Linked DNA regions of Homo sapiens: region 1 is linked to region 2. A link means that fine-mapping ties the variant in region 2 to the expression of a gene that starts in the linked region. Tissue or cell type: whole blood. Region 2 holds a variant in brackets; the other region holds the start of a gene. All regions are shown on one strand. Distances are between the middles of the regions.

Evidence for each region. PIP is the estimated chance that this variant, and not a neighbour inherited with it, causes the effect.
Region 1: it holds the start of C8orf88, and the variant in region 2 is fine-mapped to the expression of C8orf88 in whole blood (TOPMed, PIP above 0.99). The same link has a PIP of 0.9 or more in blood mononuclear cells.

The regions. Positions count from the first base shown.
Region 1 is chr8:90,981,241-90,989,589 of GRCh38, forward strand. It overlaps C8orf88 (chromosome 8 open reading frame 88), which reads right to left and starts at 3,998. Exons shown (of 6, transcript NM_001190972.2): 1 at 3,874-3,998. RefSeq lists a silencer at 4,022-4,181.
Region 2 is chr8:90,871,619-90,879,967 of GRCh38, forward strand. It overlaps NECAB1 (N-terminal EF-hand calcium binding protein 1), which reads left to right. Exons shown (of 13, transcript NM_022351.5): 4 at 510-535. All of the region lies in intron 2 of LOC105375634 (a long non-coding RNA gene), which reads right to left. Among named protein-coding and RNA genes, the nearest start is that of NECAB1, 84 kb to the left of the region's middle. The variant G/A (reference allele first, on the strand shown) is at 4,307.

The DNA of each region.
Region 1 (8,349 bases), 110 kb after region 2:
CACTTGGTAAAACTGCCTTCAATTTGATGGGCTAAATTAGAGCCTCTGATTCCAAAATCAGTCTTTAATTTCTGTTCACGCTACTTCCAAAATATTAATGTTATTTTGTTTCACCATATATTTGGACATTCAAGTGTTTTGTCTATAGTTCCCTTACTATCTCTGCTGCTCTTCTTCCAAACAGCTATTTATCTGTCAAGACCAAGATCAAGCTCTTGCCACTTCCTTGGAAAATATCCCCCTGTCTCAACAGGTAAGGTTAAATAAAATAGTCTACATGAAGTTCTCTAATAATAAAATAATAATAACAATAATAATAATTCCTCCTTCCTTACATTCCTCCTTCACTGGTCCCTACTGTATTTTATCACTTTTTCTAAAATATATCACAGTAAATATATTACATGTCTACTTATTGGACTATCAGTTAGTTGAGGCCACAAAAACCAGACCTTATTTATTTTTGTATTCTAGTATCTGCAACATAGATTTATTAAATAAACTCTATAAACGCTAAGTACCTCGTCATTGCAACTAAAATCTGACACCTGTATGGGACACAAGATTTCCAAATTTTGATGCCCATCAAGACAAAGTCAAAAATAAAACTCCACTTGATTTTGCACCTGCTTATCCAGAAATAATTGTAACCATATGATATTAAGCAAATCATAAGTCTAAGTGCCTATTTCACCAAGTATAAGATAGAGTTAGTAACCCTTTAAGTTCCCAGAAATGCTTTATCCTATTTTTTAAATATCTTTGGACATGTATAATTCAAATGTTAAAATTATAAACTTATAAACAACCTCTCAAAATTAGGAATGATAAGTAAGCACCCAAAAGTTACTATTTGGAGATAACCCAGCAAGTACTTCAAGTTAATACCAACCCAGCTTTGTAATGTGTCTGTTAGCTAGTATTTCAACGTGGCAAAACTAATGCTCTCTGTACTTTTTGTGCAATACAATTGGATATAACAAGATGAAAAAAAAGTTATAAGCACAAATAGAAAAAATACTTCAAATAAAGTTATTAATATTTTCTATGTAGAAGAGTATATTTAAAATAAGGACCAAAAAGCAACCTAATATACATTGCTTTATTTGATGTTTATCCTAGCTATTTTAGTTAAGACCCTAATACTAGTATGTAGTAACTTTCCATCCTGTTCCCCATATGAAACTAGTGAATCAGAATACAATAGGATAGAGTACTTTGGCACACACTTCGTTGTTTTTCATTGCTCAGCTGAAATTTAGTTGTAGGTTGTTAAGTCTTTTCCAATCGCTGAGCAAGGCAAATCCACAGTATTCAAACTAGGGATTTTCAAGAGTTGGGGATTACAGAACTCCATTATATGACTTTGCAACACAAGTAAATAAACAAAAAATCAAAGCTCTTTTGGTGCCACCTACCCTTCAATTTACAGTAGGAAAGATACAGCAATGGCTCCCTGTATATAAATCCACATCAGTTAAGGAAATTAGAAAAGATGGTGTCATTCAGTACTCTGTTTAATATTTTTTTTTAAAGTAAACGATGCCTGCAGGGAAACACTGACATTATAGGGGACAAGTTTGGGATTACAATGCATAGTACATTCCACCATCATGTTATTAATGAAAAAGGTTAAGTATTTATAAAAAGTAATTATTATTGTAAAACTGAGTCACGAGATTATAATTAAGGCAGAACTCCATAAACCAAAACCTAATTCTCAGTTTAGTTAAAAATAATAAAGACTTAACTGCACTACAAAGTCATTATACAAAACAAATTCAGTCTTAAACTCTAATGCCTGCTTCATCCATGGAATGTAGAGATCAAAAAGTTTCCCTTGAAGCTACTGGTGCTACCTAGAGTAGCCATGTATCATATCAACGATTCAAAGCACAGTTACAAAATAAACAGAATTCTGCCTACAACATTGGGTAGCAAGTAGTGGGCCTATCATAAGGTTGTAAAATGTAAATTTAAAAATGTAAATGTATAGTTTTGTGGTATAAATGTTTTTTAAAGGATATTTTGATCCAATGTCTCCAAAAAAACTTTCTATTAATACATACTGAGAAATGGTTGCTGAATAGTTTTTTTCAAGATCACACACACTTAACAAATCATCTTTAAAGACCAAGTTGTATGAATAGAATATTGGTAAATCAGTTAGTTATTTACAGTTGCTATTCTACACCTGGCAATACTAACTATATCTTAGGTTCCTTTTCTTTTTAAAAAATTTACCTAAGTATGAATCTTCAGGCCTTATCAGTCCTGATATTACCAGTAAACCTAGAATTGTCTAAAATACAATGGGATAATAAGCAGATACATTGACCACTTTGGCCAAAATCTTATTAATCTTATTTTTTAATTAAGATGCCTTTTTAAGGTCCTACTACATACTAAATATAATTTCATTTAATTTTGAGCCATATATGAACGGTGGAAGAAAATTATTATTAGTCCCACTTCACAGATAAGAAACCTGAGGCTCAGAAAAATAAGAGACATGCCCAAGTCCACATAGCTACTAAGTGCTAGATATTAGGATTTGACTACAAAGTTCACACCTTTATATCAAAACTTGCCTATTTGTTACATAAAAGAAAGATATCTGACTGTCCATTTATTACATGTGGACACTGCGTGTATAGATTTAAAAATTAATGTGAAAAGTAACATTTATTTATAAGGCCATGCAGAATAAATTGGTATATGCTAATAATATCCATTTCTTCAATTTACCATTTTTCTTAGAATACTAAATAAATTAGGGAGTACTGTGCTTTCCTCACGCTACAGACATGGTATACTGCCATACTAACCATAGATCACAGCATATGAAATATACTATGCACTGTTTTTAGAAGCTGAGTACTATACTTAAACTCCAATATAAATTCTAGTCTTCTTTGGAAAGTACTGATGCTACCGCTGCCGTTGAGAAATAAGATCATATAAAGTGAAATAATGAAATGAAAAGACCATATTTGAATTTACCTTGTGTATAATTCCCATATGATAACCAGATAAAATTTCATCTCAATTTCCAACTTCAAAACATTACAAAGTTAGGATTCCTTGAAACCCAATACTGCTTGTAAGTAAACTGCTCACACTGACAAAATGATAGATGAAGAGAAACATACAGGAAACATCGGGGAGTAAGAAATAAACCACCTATGACTCAAGTGGTGAAAGACATTTCACGTTCCATATATCTGGTTGCACTATTAAGGAAAAATTAAAACGAAAATATCAAAAAACTAGAAGCTTGGAGAGTTCCAACATATCTTCCATTTCATGCCTTCTCTTTATAACTAATTTAATTTTTTTTTTGGTCTATTTGAGGGATTTCTCAAAACAAAACACAATTTAACATTCGGATGGGCTAAAGCTGTCCAGGTAATAGGTGTCTGTGATTACTTTAGTCATGTAACTGTCCTTTCCGTAGCTTTGACTAAAACACCAGCAATGAAAACCTTGTGCCACCGGGTGGAGGGGGCAAATCGTCTTGAAAGCCTCCCACCGCCTGGCACCAGGTGCTGGGGCAGAGCCAAGGGGAGCTGTGTACTTAGCTCCTTTTTTGGCGATGGCTTTGGTCTCGGCCACTTGCCCCTCCGTCGGGCTCCCCTGGCCCCCTACACTTTCTTTCCCCTCATCCGACGCTCTCGCTCCCATCCCACTCCCATTCAGGGTCCACAGGGTACTGAAGGGGCCCTGAGAGATTTCCCGACCCACCTCAGAGCTTCTCTTCCTCGCCTCAACTTTCCCGGGGTCGGGCCTGGGAGACGGCGCCCACCCGCCTCCTCCACACCACGGGGCCCGACTTCCGTCCCCCAGTGTCGCTCATCCTCCCTAGCCACTTACCGACTCAAAATCCACGGGGATTTCGGGGCAGCAGCGTCGCCGCGCTCAGCCCACACGCGGAGGCCGAGCGCCCTGCTGCCCGTCGGGGAACGGCTCCTGCCGCTGGTCCGCTGGCTGACCGCGGTGGCGGCGGCGGGGGGCGAGGGGCGGGGGGCGAGGGGCGGGGGGCGGGGCGGGAGGCGGCTCCGAGGGGCACGAGGCGGGCCCAGGGCGGGCGCGGGGCGTGGCCTCGGGCGCTGAGCCTCGAGAGCAGCCGCACCCCTGCCGGGGTAGAACCGTTAAAAGGGTGGCGCGCGCTTTCCCGGGCGAGCTGGGCGCGTGGGGTTGGAGCGGCGCCACCCAGAGCCGGTCGTCTAGGGTAGGAGGCCGCGAGTGAGGCGCTGACAGGCTAGCCCTCGACGGGGCGCGCCCGCGTGAACGGCCTTGGGGGCCCCAGACCGTGGCCCTGCTTGTGCGAAGACTGGGAGGCGCCAGGCGGGCCGCCTGCTGGGGGCTTGGCGGCGGGTTCCAGGCAGCGTCTGTGAGGGAGGCCGCCTCTGTGAGGGAGGCCGCCGTCGTGCTGACGACTGAGTCCACCCTACTCCTGTCCCCCGTCAGAGCTGCTGGCAGGCGCTGCTTTCCCCTTGGTGCATTTAGTGGGTGTCGGGATTCGGGTTGGCAGGGAGGAAGATGTTTGAGACCTGGTTTACCTCAGACCAGGGATACAGCGTTTCACACAGACTGCCATCCTGAAAGGAACAAAATGAATTAAGGCAACTCCATCCGAATCATTTCTTTTTAATCTTCACCTTCAATCCTTTTGCTAATTTTTCATTATCTTTGAGTGTCCCCAGAGGGGGACTGTCTGCTTGTACTGAGGGACGTGGAGGTGGCAGTCCCTCACGTCCCCAAGCACCAAAAGGACAGTTGAAAATGCACTGGCAAACACTGAACGGTTTTAAGTGGGGCACTATCAGGATTTACCATTTTGGAAGGTATGAAGTTTCACAAGCACTTCCATGTATAGTCAAGTTATTGGAGCTGTCTCCGTTTAGAAATGGCTTCCAGAAACACTCCTACTATCCACTGAGACAACTCGCCTGGCATCAGAGACCTAGGGTCCAGGGTCAGAGATGGGTCATGATAAAAGGGCATCCCTTGGGGTGAGGCACCAGAAGTCTGCACAGTGGAATCAATATATTCCAACCACCAGATGTAGAAAATCTTAAGTGCAGGATGTGGTTCTCATCCATCTAGTCACAACAGAAGTTTTCTTCTTCAGGAATATACTTAACAATGAAGCATGTATAATTTTATATACATCTTACAATAAAATTATTTTGTGCATATCACTGTATGAAGTCAGTAGAAACTATTGTGACAAAAATGTAAATTGGAAGAATTCCAATTCAGATCAGTATTAGTAATTTATTGAGAGGAAGAGAGAAATTAGACTAGACAGACTCCTTGATTTTTTGATAATTGAGGAAGAAAAATGAACCATATAAACATATCGAAACTTTTCAAAATCTTATTGATAATGACATAAAATTTTGGCATCTACAAGGATAATCTAGAATTCATACCTTTACAACAAGAACTTGACAACAAACAGGTTAATGACTTTTAGCAACTTAAAGGTTAGTCACTGCCTGAGAAAACTTGAAGTGCCCTGAAATCACAGAGTTCACCTAAGAACCTTAAGATGAGTTTCCCCAAATTTAGCAATACTAAAAATTGGCATTATTACCAATAACAAATTGTGAAACTGCAATAACTTTTTTAAGCTTTCAATAACAAAAAATACATGTTGACTAACTTTGCTTTGAAAAGACTACCACATTATTCATTATCACCAGGGAAAGTGCATTACAAAATTACTGTCAAATGATGAGGCAATAAAAAAATGAAAACTAAAAATATAGGAAAAACATAGCAATGGTTCAGGTAGTTAATTTAAAATATCATTTTACTGAATTTCTAAAATATTTGTGGTATTTATCATCTTTTTAAAAATCTGTAATTTGTTGTCACTGATTTTCTTATTCTAAGTAAATATTTACTTTGGTCACCGCCCCCCATCCCTGCTTCCTGCCCTGCTCTGGCCACTCAAAGAATTGGAGAATGGATTGAGAAAAAGCAACAGTGGAAATAGATATCCCAGTTAGAAGGATAATAATTTATAATGTGTCTTACTACTTATAAGTAGAGGTTTTATTTAAACTTATATTTTCATATTTTATTTAACTCCACTTTCACAGTACCTAGAACTACACACACACACATACAAACTGGTTACTTGATCTCATGGTATGTGCTGTTTAGTGAGGGTGCAGATATGCAAACAGACAATTTCAACTCAGTAAATTAATTGTTAAATCTGGGTGGTGCCACTGAAAGCCTGGCAACTCAGAAAGCTGAAGAGGTAGCATTATCTCATGTTTACCAAATGATTTCCTTGCCAACCTCCTGCCAATAGTCGCCTTTTATTCATTTATTCCTCAAACATTTACGAAGCATTTTATGAAGGATACACTAACAAACACACAACACAGATGCTCATAATTATTATAGGAATGTGTTAAAACAGTGGTCCCCAACATTGTTAGCACCAGGGGCTGGTTTCGTGGATGACTGGAAGGGCGGGGTATGGTTTTGGGATGAAACTGTTTCACCTCAGATCATCAGGCATTAGATTCTTATAAGGAGCACACGACCTAGATCCCTCGCATGTGCAGTTTACAATAGGGTTCACACTCCTATGGGCCACTGTTGATCTGACAGGCAGCAGAGCTCAGGCAGTAATGCCAGCAATGGGGAGGGGCTGTAAATGCAGATGAAGCTTCAGTCACTCACCTGCCACTCACCTCCTGCTGTGTGGCTTGTTTCCTAACAGGCCAATGACCAGTACCAGTCTGGGGTCTGGGGGAGGGCAGTGGTTAGAAACCCCTGTGTTAAAAGCTATAATAATGACTTAGTTTCATTCAGCTCAGTTCAGCTCAGCAAAGGTTTTGAAGACCTATGTTTATGTGCTAGAAACTGAGGATACAAAGACAAACTGAAATACGACGAGAAAGGCTGATACACACTGAGGTTACAAAGAAAAACTGAAATATGATGAGAAAGGCTGATGCAAAATTAGCAAGAAGAGAACGCTAGCTTAATAATAGTGCCTATATATGAAATAGAAGATAGTATATGTAGTAGAAATGTTTACGTGGAATAAAAGAAGGACTACATGGAAAGGCATACTTCTGTTGAACGGTAGGAGGATGGAGAAGAGACATCACGAAAGGGTTCACAGGGGAGGTAATGCCTGAGCAGGATTTTTAAGGATAAAACATTTACCCACTTAGAAAAGGGTATTCCTTGCAGGTGAAAGAACAAGCCCAGAGATATACAGGAATAGAGCAGCAGCCAATAAAATAAAACATCAGTAATTCAGTACTGCAGAAACACAAAATACAAGAGACTGCCTGGTAGTGGCTTGATATTAGGCTAATAAAAGATGAAGTGTCTTTTATCTCCTTTATAAGGATATGGAGAGACACTGAAGGATTTTAGTTTGGGTTTAATAGTATTCTATGACCATTTGGGAAAAAATTACTTAAATGACAACATGAAAAATGGATTGGGAAGCAGAGTAGGCATCAGGCAAGACAAGAAGAGAGGCAGAGGAATCGGTTCAGAGGTTTACAGTAATCCAGGCAATGTTTATTGAGAGCCATAAGTAAAGGTAGATAGTGACCATAAGGAAAGAAAAGTACACATAGCTGAGAGAATAAGGAAAACTGCTAACAGTGTAGAGTGTGAGAGTGGAAAGTGGAAAATAGTGATGCCAGTTATTGACTTGCGCACCCAGAGCGATACAGGAAAAAAATAAAAAGATACTGTGATTTGCCTGAGGAGGCACAAGAGAATGGGATCTAGATTGTAGGTGAAGGGAAGGGACAAAAGCAAGAATAGGTGAAGTAGAGATTATCCAGTATAAGTGGAAGGGGTCTACTGTGGAAAGCAGTAGGACTTTCAAATTTTGAGATAGCATTTCTGGGGAATGTTCACCTGAAAACAGGTGAACACTGTTGAGGAGTCAGCTGAAGGTGAAGATCAGAAATTTATAAAGGCATTTACCTGCGTGGTTGTGAGATTCATTGGCAAATAAAGGAAGGGATGATAAATTGAAAGAATAATAAACCTGAAGTCCTCACAGTGTGAGACTTCCGGACAGAAGAGGTATATTTTCAAAGAGGTGTATTTTCAGACAGTGGGATAACTGAGTGTGAGAGTTGAGATGGAGTGGTTCTGAGTATAACCACCCAGCATGCCGCTGTAGAGGTGAATACCAGAAGTGAAAGGAAAATAAAGGTCATTAGACTTGACGAAGAACTGTGAGTCCAGACTGCAGTATTAGATAAGCCATTCACATTGACATTTAAATCAGTGGCATGTGATAAGAATAAAAACCAGGTACTGAAGTCTGCATTGGTGAGGAGGGAG
Region 2 (8,349 bases):
TCAAGTCAGGACTTATGATAGCTAACATTCATCAAGTGCTTATTTTGTGCCAATTACAGTTCAGTGCTTTATGTATTAATTCATTTAAACCCTACAGCATCCCATGAACCAGAAATTTTTATTACTATCCTCATCTTGGGTCAGACGAATTGAGACACAGAGATGTAAAGTAGCCAGAGTCATATAGAAGTTAAATTGCAGAGTCAGGATTTGAACTCAGGCATTCTGGATCCAGAGCCTACATTCTTTACCAATATGCATTCTTTTCCCCATCATGTTGCAGAGGAAAATATAAATCTCAGGAATTATTTGTCCGAAGAATCTGACATAATCATTGTTAATTGACCTAAGACTATTTAAATAATGTAGAATTTATAAGAGAAATACCTTAACTACATACCATCAATTAATAATATAGCTTGGAGACTAACTGTATTTAACTATTTAAAAACGTAGTTAAAAATATTACCAAAGTAATAACACTGTTTTTTTTTGTTTCATCTTTTCAGTAATCTTGACACAGAAGAGCTATGTGGTAAGTGTTTCTTTAAGATCAGTCAAACCTATTACTTGCTTAAGAAGGAAAAAGAGTATTGTCTGATATATATCAACCTTGGAATTAATGTTGTATATTAGGAGTTCACAAAGGAAAAATTAATCGAGATCTCAAGGGATTTATCTTTACCCGTGAATTTTGCTCAAGTATGTATTTCACTCCAGAAAGAGTTGGGCCTCATTAGTTCGTTCATAGAAGAAGAATTGTTGTTACAATCAGTACATTAGTTTCGCAAGAGCAAATTCTCCACAAGTTTGAATATATTTTTAAATTGATGTTTAATACAACTTCATTATTCTCTGCATGATATATTGTGCAGAGCCTTTTGTTACTACCTTACAAAGCTCTCTTCTTGAAATGTAAAAATAACTTTGTCTCATACCTGCCTAAACCATTCTGGAGTTGTAAATGTCACTTGCAAAACAAGTGATTCAATGGGGACAGATACATCTTTACAAATGCCTGGTTTAATAGCCTCTTCATTTATTTTCTTCATCTTTATGGTTGGAACAATAGTTAAAGATTAGAAATATGGAAAGGTAAAATTTTAAAATTTTATTATTTTATGAAAAAATAGAACATTATGAGACTATTCCATTTGAAAGAGCTATCTTTCTCTGAATACTGGAAGGTTTAATGTTTTATGTTTTAAGATAAATGTTTAAGATAATACTTTTATTTAAGTTCGATCTTATTGTCTAGGCTGCTCAAAACATTTTTGGTAGTTAGAGTTGAGTTTTGTCTGAGAACTCCTCATTGAAACTATCAGCATTTCCTGAACATCTTCTAATTCTTACAGTTTCAGAATTTACCAAAACCATAAAAAAAGGCCATTTTCTTATATTCAAGAGTGGTTATTTTCCATTTCATCAAAGTGGTAGAGCAACACCAAAAGATGTTATACGAGAACAAAATATCAGAATACAGGGTTTCAAGGCAATAACTGAACAAAATGAGCATAATCTCCAACAACGACCTTTCAGATTTTCCAATGATTGTAAAAAAACTCATGCTTCTTATCCTAGCATAGTGTCCATCTCAGGTTCAGGGAGGAAAATCCAATTGAAATTCAAGATATGTTTATGGAGGAGCAAGGTACTCCGGTACCAAAGCAGGACATGCTTTTGTTAGTTATGAAATACCAACAGGGAAAATCATGCCATTCTTTCAGACACAGTCAGATAGTAGCATTGTGCACACATGGTTAAGTACCTGAAAGTGCCCATATGGACCATTGCCGTGAGGCTTTATGATGAATAGCAGTCACCATAAAGGCCAAGTTGTGGTCCACTCTCATCTATGTGCACACAGTCCTGGTCAGTGAAGTGAAAAGATAAAATGGAGAACACAAGATTATCTTGATAATTTCATTAAGGTAGCAGACCCATTTCCCTAAAATGTCTAGCTATGTCAGGCCAAAGTAATTATTTCCACAAATCATTCATTTATATCTATTTTTTGTTTTTCACTTAACTTTGCCTGGGTAGGCCACAGCTGATGACAAAGCAAACTGTTATAAGGGCTTTTAAGATAAAAACACTAAGTGGTTCTTCTTTATTTGCTATGTTGCCTGCCTATTGTCATTAAGGAATATTGTGTTATCCTCTGTTTTTCCTTGAAAGTACTTCAAGTTCTAAAGTATGATAGCATATCTCCACTTACTCCTCTACTGAAAAAAATATTTTAAAAATATGCCTTTTTTCTATAATGGAACTAGTTAGGTCCCTATCCTGTATTTATGGAAAAAGCTTTGGCTATGATTTTCCCCCTATAGCTTTAGTTAGGGAACTGGTATGTGGGGCTTTAATTCAACAGGAATTGTTCTGTGTTTTTTAAATCCAGTGATTGTATTCAGTCATGTGTTATAATCCTCCCCCTCTCTGTTCAAGAATATGCATTTTAATCTCCAGAGTGTCATTTCATTTCTCATTATTTTGTGAATATAAAGTAAATATTTAAGTTGGATTCTAATCAAAGCCAAATGCTTCAGTGTTAGCAAGTGAAATATGTCAATTCACACCCAGCACAAATTCCCCCTTGTGCGTGGGAGGGGCAGAACTTGATTGGCATGAAAAGTAGATTTCATATGTTCTTTCCTAGAAGCCAATTAGAAGTTGCAGGTATGTAAAACTTTAATTCTGAGGCTTTTACTTAATTTGTCAGTTACTAAGTTAAGGACCTAGAATTTAAAATATTTATTTTGAAAAAAATGTGTTTGTAATTTTAATTGTGAAAGTAATACATAACTACTATTTTTAAAATTTAACAGAATTATGTAGGCGTATAAGCTAACATGTCAATCTTCTGTGCCACTCATTGTCGTCCCCAATACTGAGCTCTACTATTTACTTGGAACATATTCTTCCAGACATTATTATGTGTATATTGACATTGATATATATGTGTACGTGTTGTTGTTTTTTCCAACAGTGAGATTATACTATATGATTAGTGCAGTTGCATCCCCTTTTCCTTCATTTTATTTAAAGGCTGCATAGTGTCTCATGAACCTTAATTTTTTTCAATCAAGTTCCTTTTAATGGATTTTCAATTTGAATCCAACCTTCCATGGGAAAAACAGGATTGAAATAAATATTCTCATATACATTATTCTCACACTCACGTTCAAGTAATTCTGAATTCTGAATGGTAGATTCCCAAACATGTAATTCCTCAATCAAGGCTTCTCTAAGGTGCACACCCACCAGCAGTTTATAGAAGTGCCAAAATTATCCACTCTTCACATACAATTGTGAAGGCCTTCCTAAATGCATTTTTTTTTTGCCGTATCTTATCACGATCAGTCAATACATAACTCAGTTTTAATTAGGCAATTGTGTTTGAACTCTGGCATTAAAGCTTTGATTTTGTATTTCTACCATAATTAGCTATAATCTAAAGCTTCAGGAGTATAATTACTACCTTTCCTGGCCCTACCCTGTTTATGACTGTTTTCATAACCTTACTCATTTTTACTGAACCGTTTTGCAGATCTTGAAGTTGGTAGTTAAGAATAGATAGTTGAGGCCGGGCGCGGTGGCTCACGCCTGTAATCCCAGCACTTTGGGAGGCCGAGGCGGGTGGATCATGAGGTCAGGAGATCGAGACCATCCTGGCTAACAAGGTGAAACCCCGTCTCTACTAAAAATACAAAAAATTAGCCGGGCGCGGTGGCGGGCGCCTGTAGTCCCAGCTACTCGGGAGGCTGAGACAGGAGAATGGTGTGAACCCGGGAAGCGGAGCTTGCAGTGAGCCGAGATTGCGCCACTGCAGTCCGCAGTCCGGCCTGGGCGACAGAGCGAGACTCCGTCTCAAAAAAAAAAAAAAAAAAAAAAAAAAAAGAATAGGTAGTTGAAATATTTACAGATGAGCGAAGAATAATTGCAATGAATGTGCTTGATCTGAAAGCCTTTCTGTAAGAAAGCTTTGTGAGGAAGGTTGAATATATTTAATAGTGTAATTTCTCATCTAGTCGGGTGTTATCTACAAAATATTAAACTATTTTAAAAGTTATATGAAGTCTATAAATAAGATGGATAAAAACTGAGGGTACGGGGGCCGGGCGCGGTGGCTCACGCCTGTAATCCCAGCACTTTGGGAGGCTGAGGCGGGTGGATCACGAGATCAGGAGATCAAGACCACGGTGAAACCCCATCTCTACTAAAAATACAAAAAAAAAAAAAAAAATTACCGGGCGTGGTGGCAGGCGCCTGTAGTCCCAGCTACTCTGGAGGCTGAGGCAGGAGAATG[G/A]CGTGAACCCGGGAGGCGGAGCTTGCAGTGAGCTGAGATCAGGCCACTGCACTCCAGCCTGGGCGACAGAGCAAGACTCTGTCTCAAAAAATAATAATAATAAATAAAGTAAAGTAAAATAAAATAACTGAGCGTACGGGAAACTCCAGAATAAAAGCTTATTCCCTTCATACCCAAGGTTCCTTTCGGTAGCTGTGCACTAAGCACCCAGGCTGCAGAGATTGGCAGAGCCTGGACAGTGCTCAGAGACCTGTGCCAGCAAGTCTGAGTGCTAGGAAATCAGAAGGCTCTATGCCCTCCTCCAGACTGCTGTGTCCTCCTCCAGTGGCACATGTCACTGATGATTGAGATGTAAGAGAGTTTGCGTGTCGCTTATCTGCATCCCCTCAAAATAGCCCACATTTCTAGATCTGACTGACCTCCCTATTCAGAACATGCGGGTTTTAACACTCTCTCTCATCTCAATTACTTTCTTTTCTACCTAGTCTACTACTTGAGAAAGTCTAACTGCTTGAGAAGTTTAGATGAGAGTCATCTAAACTCATGAGAATACTTTGTAAGACCAGTTTCCACTGAGACTTTTGTGGCAGCTGTGGGTCCTTTGCTTCTGACAGAATTATTAAGCTGACCTGAAAACTCAACAACTTGAAAGACTAAGGTGCAGGATAGAAAAACAGAACAAAACTGTAGTTTGGTAATGCAACACCACTGATTAAGTACAGAAAGGCAGGTAGAAACTAATTTTTTGTTAGCATTTTAGTAGAGAAGATGGCACACTGGATATCCATGAGAATATAGCCTGCTTCCTGACAGATAACAGGCTTACTACATCTGCTTATAAACTGTGCTCTACTTTTTCATCATACCTAATATTCAGACTCTACTTTTCAATGATACTTCATTTAAACTGATGAGAATTGGTTTTCACACATTTCCATAAGTGCAATATGACTCTGTTTTGCTCAAGTTCATGAAACCCACATACAGGTTTCAACAAAATAGGTCTTTTCTTCAGGAAGTTCTTCTAGTTACCAAAGGAAAGCATTTTAAGGAATCAATATTTGTTCCAAGTCATTCTTTCTAATGCCATGACTTAAGGACAATATACATTTGCCCTACTCACACTGGTATTGTGATTCAAATGAGAAACATCAGTCACAAACATGAGAAACTTGGAATAAAACTTTAGTCCAAGCTCAGCCACTTCCAAATATGTCACTGTCCTTCCCTCCTGCCTACCACATCTTGGAGTTTGCAGATCTGCTGAAATTCTGGACTCCACCGCTCATTCCACTTCAAAGCTTTGGCATGGCTCATAGTCCTAGTTGTGTGATGAAATCCCTCCTGGCAGTTGATACCTCCCTTCTCTCTTGATGGTGTCACCAACATTCCCAAATCATCCTTAGTGCATCCCTTCCTTTTCTGATAGGAGAATTTGAGGATGTCACTCTCCTTTCCATGGCTTCCCATTGCCCATAGTGGTCTCGAATTTACTCTGCATCATAATCTCCTAGGGAACCTCGCCCTCAACCCAAAGATTGTGATTTACTAGATGAGACCTTCTCAGTTATCTTCATGTCTAACAAGTACCCTAGAGTAGTGTTTCTCAAACTTAAATAAGCCTACAAATCACCTGGGGGTCTTATTAAAATGCAGAATGTGATTCAACAGGACTGGAAGTGGGCCTGAGACACTGAGTTCTAACAAGCTCCTAGGTGAAACTAATGCTGCTGGTCCACAAAACAAACTTTGGACAGTGAAGTACTAGAGGATTCTGATGCAGGTGGTCAAAAACACTTACCTAGACTTGAGGATCAAAGAGCATCTGGCAAGGACTGTTTCCAACACATACAGCTTTATCTCCCAACACTGACTTTTAGGATTTGTTTCCTTGCTGCCTCCCATTCTCAAATATGTTCCAGCCCTGTTCTTTATGTCTTGGCAGTGCTGAACTACACATACTCCTGCAAACATGACAGGAAAACAGCTGCTTCCATGCCCTTCCTCTGAGTATCCAGCAGGTTAAGTCCTATTCATCTGTTAACTGAGCCATTGCTGGTGTTTCTCCTATGAAGCCCTCTCTGACTCACCCAGGCAGACTTGGGCATTCTTTTTCTTTTTTTTTTTTCAAAGACAGGATCTCGTTCTGTCACCCAGGCTGGAGTGCAGTGGCACAATTTCGGCTCACTGCAACCTTGGTATCCCTGGTTCAAGCAATTCTCCTGCCTTATCCTCTATTTGGATTGCACCTTGTATCTGGGCCCTTCAACCATTGTCTTTAACAATGATTATGTGTATTGCAGTTGTTACTTGGAATGTTTCTCTCTCCTCTCTGACTTTAGGGCTTCTGTCTTTTCACCTTTGTATTCCAAGCTCCTATGATAGCACCTGGCACATAAAAGGCCCTAAGTAAAGGTTTGTTAGGCCACAGAATGAGTAAGTGAACACTCGCTATGATGAAGTGGAGGGGAGTTATCTCTCTTTATCTATGTTGGATGTGTCTGGCTCTTTCATCTAACTTCCCTCTTTGAGTTTATTGGAGCCCCCTTGCCTTGACTGCCTGACCCATATCCCTCAGTGAGTAAGTTATAAAAGAGCCTTAGTGACACTGAGCTGCACCACCTCAAAATAATCCTTACACTTAGATTTCCAACTTAAGCTCCTATCCATGACTTAAGTATTGTAATTCTCTTCCTTCTCAGTCATTTTCTTTACTATCTAGTGATTGTTCTTTTTTTCTAACTTGGAGAGTTGAGATGAATAAATGGATGAATGAAGGACAGAAAGAATGAAGTCTAGATAGGTGTCAGCTCTGAAGCTTCTAGTCATTGTTTTTCTTATATGCTTTATCAGCATATGCCTGCATCTGTGTGCATAGGTCCAATTTTAAAGTGGAAAGACAACTTAAATTCTCTCCAGGAACCTTTACTAATTAAGCCAAATGTCCATGAATGAAATATTTATTTTAAAAAGAGGCTTTACCTCTCTCTCTCTATATATATATATAGTAAGTATTTTCTTATTTATCTTCTAACTAATCACTGTCTCTCTCTCTCTCTACATATATTATATATAGATATCTATATTATATATAATATATATTATATTTATTATTTATTATTTATATAATATATATCTTATATATAATATATATTATATATATTATATATATAATATAGGTATCTATATATAGATATCTATATATAATATATATATATCGAGAGAGAGAGTGTTGCTTTTTTAGCAACAATTTTTTTGTTTTCACTTTCTTTTTTTTTTTTTTTAGACAATGTCTCATCTGTAGCCCAGGCTGGAGTGCAGTGGCACTATCACGGCTCACTGCAGCCTCGACTTCCCAGGCTCAAGCAATCCTCCCACCTCAGCCTCCCAAGTAGCTGGGATCAGAGGCACATACCACCATGCTGTGTGGCCCAGGCTGGTCACGAATTCCTGGGCTCAAGTGATCCTTCTGCCTTAGCTTCCCAAAATACTGAGATTATACGCACGAGCCTCCATGCCCAACCTGTTTTCACTTTATATTTTTGTCTATTTGCATTTAAAACCCCTGTCACAATCCTCTTTGAGGCATTATATATACAAGTTTTAAAATAAAAATGAAGTAACAGCTTCACTTTTTGGCATTTTTCTTATGCTTTTTGCTTGTTTCAACATAGTATAGACTCAGTTCTGATATTCATTATTTTTCCAACTTACGAATATTCTACGGCCACATTAACTGCTCGCTGGTTGATGAAGAGTGTTCATTTGTTATAAATAATTGCACAAATAAAGTTAGACATATTTGTCAACCTTATCAAAAAGTCAACATTATAACCACAAATTAAAATGTTATTTTGAAGCAGGTATTTAAGGAGTAAATATTTTATTTATCTTCCAACTAATCACTTTCTAAAGAATCTTTATAAGAGATAGTTTACACCACATTGTTTTTAAGGAATGCATTTTACTTTTTGTCAAAAATATGTTATTTGTTTTTAACCTAAGTGTATACAGACTGTATTTTGACAACCATGATCTGGAAT